Linked DNA regions of Homo sapiens: all the other regions are linked to region 1. Evidence: fine-mapped expression QTL. A gene starts in region 1. Each other region holds a variant in brackets. All regions are shown on one strand. Distances are from middle to middle.

Evidence for each region. PIP is the estimated chance that this variant, and not a neighbour inherited with it, causes the effect. A credible set is the group of variants that fine-mapping cannot tell apart.
Region 2: its variant is the best candidate, but not a certain one, in a credible set for the expression of KLHL30 in whole blood (TOPMed, PIP 0.66).
Region 3: its variant is the best candidate, but not a certain one, in a credible set for the expression of KLHL30 in whole blood (TOPMed, PIP 0.63).

What each region holds. Positions count from the first base shown.
Region 1 is chr2:238,137,544-238,140,299 of GRCh38, reverse strand. KLHL30 (kelch like family member 30) reads right to left here and starts at 1,632. Exons shown (of 8, transcript NM_198582.4): 1 at 1,542-1,632.
Region 2 is chr2:237,974,921-237,977,676 of GRCh38, reverse strand. All of the region lies in intron 2 of UBE2F (ubiquitin conjugating enzyme E2 F (putative)), which reads right to left. All of the region lies in intron 2 of UBE2F-SCLY (UBE2F-SCLY readthrough (NMD candidate)), which reads right to left. Among named protein-coding and RNA genes, the nearest start is that of UBE2F, 9.3 kb to the right of the region's middle. The variant C/AC (reference allele first, on the strand shown) is at 1,087.
Region 3 is chr2:238,112,896-238,115,651 of GRCh38, reverse strand. All of the region lies in intron 4 of ESPNL (espin like), which reads right to left. Among named protein-coding and RNA genes, the nearest start is that of ESPNL, 14 kb to the right of the region's middle. The variant G/A (reference allele first, on the strand shown) is at 1,409.

The DNA.
Region 1 (2,756 bases):
CACATTGCTGGGGAGGCCATTTGGGGGCTGCAGCAGCTCCTGCTCCCGCGGTGCTCCCAGGTGCCAGGCCACGTGCCAAGCATGCAGAGAAGCTGTGCATTCACCACTCAGCCCCACAACAGTCCTGGAGGGTGGGTGCAATCATTGCCTCTTTTACAGCTGGGGAGACTGAGGCACAGAAGGTTTCAGTCACTTGCCCAAGATCACACATTTAGGAAGTGGTGGAGCTGGAATTTGAACTCAGAGCTAGGCTTGGGGGCCCAGGCTCTGAACCCTGCATTCCACGTGGCCGGGTGGAGGCTGCTAAACAGAAACGGCCAGCCAAAGGCAGCGTTCTGGAGGGTTTCGCGTCACCACGCCCGCATGGTTGAAGTCAGCAAGGCCGCTTTCAGGCTCATGTAATTATGTGCATGTGGTTTATGTCCTTCTGGTATCGCACCCTAAGACAACCATCCCTAGGAGAGATCAAGTCTGTGCACAAGCCTTCGACCCGGGTCACCCCAGGGCGAAAGGCTGCGCAGCGGAGAGGCCGTTCGCCCGCTAGGGGGCGCCTCGCGGGGCCATCCCGGGCAGGAGAGGCGGCCGCGCGTCCACAGGTACAAAATGCGTGGGAACGCCACGCATGGAAATGACAAAGCTCAGCTGGAGAACCAGGAGGCCAAGAATCTGGCCCGGGCAGCCACGGTGCAGGTACAGGTGCAGGCGATGGGAGCTAGGGCTCCCCGACTTCCCGACCCCGGTGCCACCTCTTGACCCCAGAGCGGGGAAGCACCTGGGAGCCCACAGGGCCTCGCGGACCAACCCGGGCTCGCGCACAGGGCAGCTCACGTGGCCGGGGCCCCACACCCCAGCATCCCGGCCGGTACACGAAGTACCCACCCAACACTGCATGCATGGGGTTCCTGCCTGGCCCCTCCCCAGGAGGCGCTGGCCCCGGTGAAGGCGGCTCTGCCCTCCCTGGGCAGCCGGGAGATGAGCTGGGGCCTGAGTAGGTGACAGGGCTGTCCCTGGGCCACCGCCTGCAGGCCTCACATTCCCGTCATTGTTGTGCTCCCTTGGGCCAGCTGCTGCCGGGCGATGGGCAGGCACGCATGAGCGCCCCCACTTCCCCTGGGGGCCTCGGGGTGCCTGCTGACACCTGTCACCCTGCAGTCCCTGCATGGGTCGGGGCTTCCTGAGGGTCTCAGAGCCTCACCCCAGTGCCTGCCCAGGCCCGGAGTGAGGAAGCCGAGTGGGCAGGACAACAAAAGGCCTGAGCCCAGCCAGGCTGGCGACTGTGGCTGAGTGGCCCTGGCTGCCATCTGAGGGGTGGCCCAGCCTCCCCCTCCCACCTCTCCGGCTGGGACATGGAGGGAAACCTGTCTCCTGAGCCCCCACCCTGAGGAGCCTGGCTTGGCCGCTGGCAAGGGCCAGGGGGCGTCTCCAAAGCACCCTGCTGTGATCCCTGGCCTCGGGGGCCTAACCCACCCTCCCCGCTGCTCCTGGCTGGGTTCCCCCTGCCCTCTCTGCTGTCCCCTGCCCCAGAGCCCCCTGGATCCTACCTCTCACTCAGCCTGGACCTCGAAGCTGAGAACACAGACCCGAGAGAGCAGGACTGCCTAGCCGGCAGCCAGGGGACACGGAGGCCTGCAGGGCGGGGCAGGGCTGGTCTGGTGGCCACGTGGGGAGGGTATTTTTAGCCTCTGTCTGCAGGGCGAGGGGAGGGTCAGGCAGTGAGGGCTGGGCTGGTGGGGGAAGGAGTGAGATGCCGGCTCCTTGGTGACTGTTAGCTCAGAAAGCCCACTGAGGCCTTCCAGGGACTTGTGGCCTAGGACAGACATCAGGAAGGGCTCCAGGGCAAGGACAGGTGAAAGCTGTCGCGGTTGGGCTGGCTGGTGGGGGCAGGGATGCAGCTTCCCCACCTGTTTCCTCGTCTACAAGTTGAGTACAGTGGAGCCCGTGGTGGGGGCCTGGGGTCACAGAGACCCTCAGCCCAGGGCCAGGACACCGACAGGTGCTGCCCTCGCTGTTGATGTCAGCGGCACCTATGTGTCCTCTTGTTCTGTTGTCACGTGGGAAAACGTGATTATCATGAATAAGCACAGGTTGGTCAGCAGAGGCTTTCCGAGCTTGGGGTCCATGGTGGCGGTAGGGAAACTTTGCCCAGAGAGGGGAGGTGCCACACTCAGTTGCCCCGCCCAGCTAGCGTGGATAGGGGAGATCTTGGGGCTCCTTGCCCTGCTACCCCATGGCCTTGGCCTCGGGGCTGCCCAGGACGGCTAAGAAACAGGGTCACCTAAAAATACAGCAGTGGACTATCAGCCTCCCGTCCAGCACTTGGTTCACGGTAGTCGCAGGGGGAAGCTCTCACGCCTGGGACTGAAATGGGCTCAGAACCACAGGCCCTGACCAAGGTCAGGTGGGTTGAGTTGGGGACCCAAGAGGCCACTGGACATTTCTCACACCAGTGACCAGAGCAGAGCTTTGTGGCTGAGGGACTTCAGGTGCATGGGAGAGAAGCCCTCAGCCCTCAGCCCTCTACCCATCGGCCATGTGGGCCTGAGCAGTATGACCATTTCCAGGTGTGCTGCGACCTGGAGGAACTGGGGAGTATTGGGTCTGGCTGTGGCCTCTTGATGCTACTAGGGATTGTCCTAATGCTCTTACAGACCAGAGAGGTCCAGGCGGCCCCCAGGGAGACAGAACCCCACTCCTGGTCCTGAGATGCACACAGCCTATGGAGGGGAAGCTCACCTACAAATTACTGCCAAGTCTGC
Region 2 (2,756 bases), 160 kb after region 1:
CAACAGCCACAGCAGCCTCCACAGCACCACTTCCGCCATAACTCCCCAGAGGATAGAAGGCCAGACTGCCACCAGGGTCAACAAGCCACCCACAAAGCAAGCTAAACAAAGGAGCACTCTAGGGGCGGACCCCACAAGCATGAACCATCAGGCACTCTTGTTGCACTTTGTGTGTACAGCCACCTCTCTCAGATCAGGCCCACCCTTCTCTTTACCCTCACCTCACAAACTCCACCACAAGCCCAAACTACTCACCACTCAGCCTGGCCTGCAGCCCCTGAGGTGAGTGGAAGGAAAGGCCACGAGAGGGGAGGTTACACTGAGTTCTACTGCCATTTATCGCCAGTGCTTTGGACTCTGAAACTTAATCGCTACCAGTGCCTGGGGAGGATGGAAATGGTAGCCTCAAGCGTTGGCTCTGCACCTCTCCTTGTGAGACCCTTCTCCTTGTGAGACCTTCTTGTTCTTGATGGGTTGCACAAGGTCAGAGAACCTCAGCTGGGCCCTGTCAACCCAGCCAAAGATATTTCCTTCCTTGGAGCTGGAGGGGCGCCCAGGTTGGTAGGTCTTAGTGGGCTCTGTCAGCCCTGGAGCCGGCAGAGAGCTCCAGGGTGAGTTCCTGAGCAGGGCAGGAGACATGGAGACGCAGAGCCTCCTTGAACTCTCTTTTCTGTGGACTTGCACTTCTATTCTGCTACTTTGGTTTCTGCTTGTCGCATCTGCCCCCACAGAGCCTGTCCTACCCCAGTATGTGGGTCTGGCTGTCTTGCTGCAATAAACCCGCAAACTGGGCAAGTTTCTTAACCTGAGTCTCAGCAGTTTATGGGTAAAATGAAGGATCAATCTGGCAAGGCTTTGAAAAGTCAAACAAGAATTACCCCATTAAGTGCCTACTATGGCTCGAATGGGGCCAAAATTCATGCTGAAGCTTAATCCCCACTGTGGTAGTATTAAGAGGTGGGGCCTCTAGGGAAGTGATTGTCATCAGGGCTCTGCCGCATAAATGGATCAGGGCCTTATAAAAGAGCAGGAGGAAACTAGCTTAGGCCCTTTTTGCCCTTCCATCTCTTCTGCCATGTGAAGACA[C/AC]GGCAACAAGGTGCTATCTTTGAAGCAGAGAACTACCTGTACCAGATACCAATCCTACTAGGATCCTGGACTTCCCAGCCTCCAAAACTCTATTGTTTATAAATTACCCAATCTGTGGCATTTTGTTACAGCAGCACAAATGAACTAAGAAGGTGCCCAACAGAGGGCCTGGCCCTAAGTGCTCAGTATACAAAAGCTCCTATTAGCTACTATTAACCATGACAATGATTGGGTAAAGAAGATGGGACAGTCTGTTTGTCAGCTTCTACCCACTCCTCCTCAGCTGACATCCAGGCCCTCCTTGCTGCAACTCCTCAGGCACTGAAGCACTCACTGTCTACTCCAAGTACAGCAACAACACACCATTTTCCTGGCTTGTGCTGCAGATGGAGCCCGGAATCTGAGAAGACACTCAAGTCCTATCAGGCACACCCAAGTAAGGTGCTCCAGCTCTTGCCCCGCCCTCTGGGCCTCTTAGGGTAAAGCCTCCAGCACAACAGACGCTGAATACAATCTACTATTCTCCCAGGCTTAGTAGGTAAGGCCAAAATGTGAAATACCATTCTCACTCCACTTTCAACCAATCATCAGGCTGGATAATCCAAAACTAAGTCCAAACTCAGGGGCAGAAGGAGAGTAAGAAAAAGAGTACAGGCCAGGCACAGTGGCTCATGCCTGTTAGTCCAGCACTTTGGGAGGTCAAGGCAGGCAATCACTTGAGGTCAGGAGTTTGAGACCAGCCTGGCCAACATGTTGAAACCCCGTCTCTACTAAAAATACAAAAATTGGCTGGGCGTGGTAGTGTGTGCCTGTAATTCCAGCTACTCAGGAGACTGAGGCATGAGAATCGCTTGAACCCAGGAGGTGAAGGTTGCAGTGGGCCGAGATCATGCCACTGCATTCTGTCTTAAAAAAGAAAAAGAGGACACTGTTAAGTCCCCACAAACCCAGTGCCCTCACAGTTCCCATTCCTTCCCCAGTTTAACAGTGATTTGTGTCTGGGAAGGCCAAGCACAGCACATTTACATACACCAGCTCTTCTGCTGTTAGATTCTTCAGGACACGTAAATGCCTGCAATCTCCATGTTGTCAACCTAATACAACATGAAAACAGGGAGTTCGAATACACTAATCAACCCTTTGCTTTCTAGCTGCTCTACATGTAAGAAATGTAAACACTTGACGGGTACAGTGGCTCACACCTGTAATCCCAACACTTTGGGAAGGCCGAGGTGCGTGGATCACTTGAGCCCAGGAGTTCAAGACCAGCCTGGGCAACATAATGAAACCCCATCTCTACAAAAAAATAAAAAATAAAAAGACTAGCTAAGCATGGTGGTGCACGCTTGTAGTCCCAACTACTCAGGAGGCTGAGGTGACAGGATCGCCTGAGCCCAGAAGGCTGAAGCTGCAGTGAGCCATGATTACGCCACTGCACTCCAGGCTGGTGATAGAGTAAGAGTCTGTCTCAAAAAAAAAAAAAAATTTTAAAGAAATGTAAACACCTGTGATAAAGTAAGGCCAGGCACAGTGGCTCACGTCTGTAATCCCAGCACTTTGGGAGGCAGAGGCGGGTGGCTCACCTGAGGTCAGGAGTTCAAGACTAGCCTGGCTAACATGGTGAAACTCTGTCTCCATTTATGGCCGGGCACAGTGGCTCACACTTGCAA
Region 3 (2,756 bases), 25 kb after region 1:
CTCTGGACTGCAGTGCCTCACCTATAAAAGGTGCAATTAGTGTTCATTCTCTACAGATAAATACAGGTTCAGCATGCATGTGGAGCGGCGGGTGTGCCATGCCGTGAGTAAATACAACGTGACGCTGTCGTGTGTGGCAGGGGGCCTGGCAGCGAAGTCCAGTGGCCTTGAGCTCATCTGGCTCTGTGACTTGCTGGTCAGAGAACTTGGCCAGCTAACTGGGCCTGTCTGTAAAGTAAGGACACCTGCATTGATCTATGGTCGGCACCACCAGCCTCCCTTGCCCCGGCCCCTACCGACACTCACCTGCGCAGCTAGCAGGTCAGCTTGAGACCTCGAGGGCGAGTGCCTTGTCCTGGGGGAATCCTCTGGAGGGCTTCCTTCCCCTCCCTCCTCTGCCCTGAGTTCCATGGCCTCCAAGGTGGCCACAGCCTGAGGAGGCCACAGCGCCACCAGGGGAAGGTGGACAAAAAGATAGAGCCCTGCTCCCTGGAATCCCTGCAGGTCCGAAAGACCAGTGCCAGAACCGCCGCAAGATCAGCTCCAGAACCGCCACAAGACCAGAGCCAGAACCACCGCAAGACCGGAGCCAGAACCGCCGCAAGACCAGCGCCAGAACCGCAGAGCCACAGGGCTTGTCACTGCCTGAGGATGATGACCCTGCGCCTCTAAGCTGCAGACTGGGGTGTCTGCTCACGCACTGCCTGCCTTCCTGGGTGCCGTGCTGCCCTCCAGAGAGTAAGCAGCTCAGCCCGGGGGCCGCCGGCTCTGGCACAAATATGCAACCCTGGTCGTGGTGCGAAAGCTGCCACCCATAGCGTGGCCGGGTGCCCACAAGGCTTTATTTGTGGGCACTGACATTTTAACTTCAGATGAGTTTCATGTGTCATGAGATGTGATTCTTTTTCCTTTTCCCCATTTAAAAAGGGAAAAACTATTTTGAGCTTGTGGGGCCACACAAAATCAGGCGTGCGCACACCCCTTCCCCGGGGGCTGCTGGGAGGCTTGAACCAGATAACGCCTGAAGGCTCCTGGAGGCCCAGAAGGGCTGAGCCAGTGGCTGGTGTGGCTGAGGAAGCAGGAAGCATTTGTCAGATGTGCAAGGACACCGGGGCTGGGGAGGCTGGGGCAGGTCGCTGAAGCCAGTCGCTGGAGAGAGGCACTGCTCCCGGAGGCTCTGGGCTGGGGGAATGGCAAAGGTTTGCCAGGGCGCGGTGGGTGTGTGGGTGGGTGGAGGCGGAGCGTCCCCAAGGAGCTGTTGCTGGGAAGAGGAGGCCAGGATGCGGAGGAGGGGAGTTACGGGGTCTGCAGGAGTATGAGGGGTGTCACGGCAGAGGAAGGGGGACAAGTGTCAGACCTGGCCCCAAATGGTGCTGGGGAGAGAGGGCAAAGCCCTGATAGGAACAGA[G/A]CCATGGGGAGGAGGAAGGGAACCTCTCCCCCAGAGTGACGGACCCCATCACCGCTGGGATTGTCAGCAGAGGGTGGGTAGTGACAGACAGAACTCTGTCTGGAAGTCTGTGCAGAGGCCACAGCAGTGGAAAAGCAGGTGAGCAGATGGATCCACTCCAGGGAGGAGAGAACCAGGTGGGTCAGACCAACCCACTGCCCAAGGACGTGAAACACGGATTCACTGTAAAAGTCACCTGCTGACAGCCTCAGTAAGGTAACGCAGAAGTCAGGAGTGACACGGCCACACTCAGGAGAAAAGGAAAGCCTGGGGGGTGAGGGGTGTCGGGGAGCCCAGCACTCAGAACTGCTCTTGCCCTGAGCCTGGGCTGACGACGGAAGAACAGTTATATGATGTGCCGTCCTCCCGCAGCCTCAGGGGACCAGGGAGGCCAGGAACCGTGCGGGTTCCATCAGGGGTGGGGGCTCTGGTTGACCACCTCCCGATGTGGCCAAGGGCTCCACCCTCAGAGAAAATGGAAGCCAGACGCCAGCCAGGCCCCTGGTTCCTGTCACGGAGGTGGTCCTGGGAACTTCCTGCCTGGAATGCGGATTAAGATGATCCTAGGCCCACATGTGCCCAGCAAAGGCAAATAAGATATTGCTAAGGCCTCCAGTTATGCCTACGCTTCATTTTTCATGTCAGCATATGTCAACAAAAATAAAAATACAAGGAAATAAAATACCATGAACAAGAACCAGAAGACCCAGCCCACAAAGAAATAGAAATAAAGCTCTGAGAACTAACAGACAAAAAACAACTGTGCTTACTACTTTTAAATAAAGAAAAATCCAGGCAGCCAGATCACATCTCCTCAAAATAACAGAGTAAAAATAAACCCCTAAACATTAGTAATTATACTGACTATAGATGGTCTAAATGCACCAATAGGTAAAGACTGTCAGGCTGATGAAAAAAATTAAACATGACTGCATATGGTTAACCAGAGGTACTGGCAAACATAAGGATTCAGAAGGCCGAAAGCAAAGTATGAATAAGCTTCACCATCAAATAAGTATAGAAAGAAAAGTCATGTGTATACATATATCAGATAAAACAGACTAGATATGGGGTTCAAAATATATAAAACAAACGGTGACAGGATTGTAGGGAAACACAGACAAATCCAGAATAATAGCCAGGAATGTTCACACAATTCTCTCGATCCACTTGAAATCCAGTAAACTAAAATGTGTACCTATGGAGATCTGAAGAACACAATGACATAATGGACATGTAGCGAACAGTCTGCAAACTCTACAGTCTTTCCAAGAACATATGCAACGTTGATAAAAATTGACCATACACG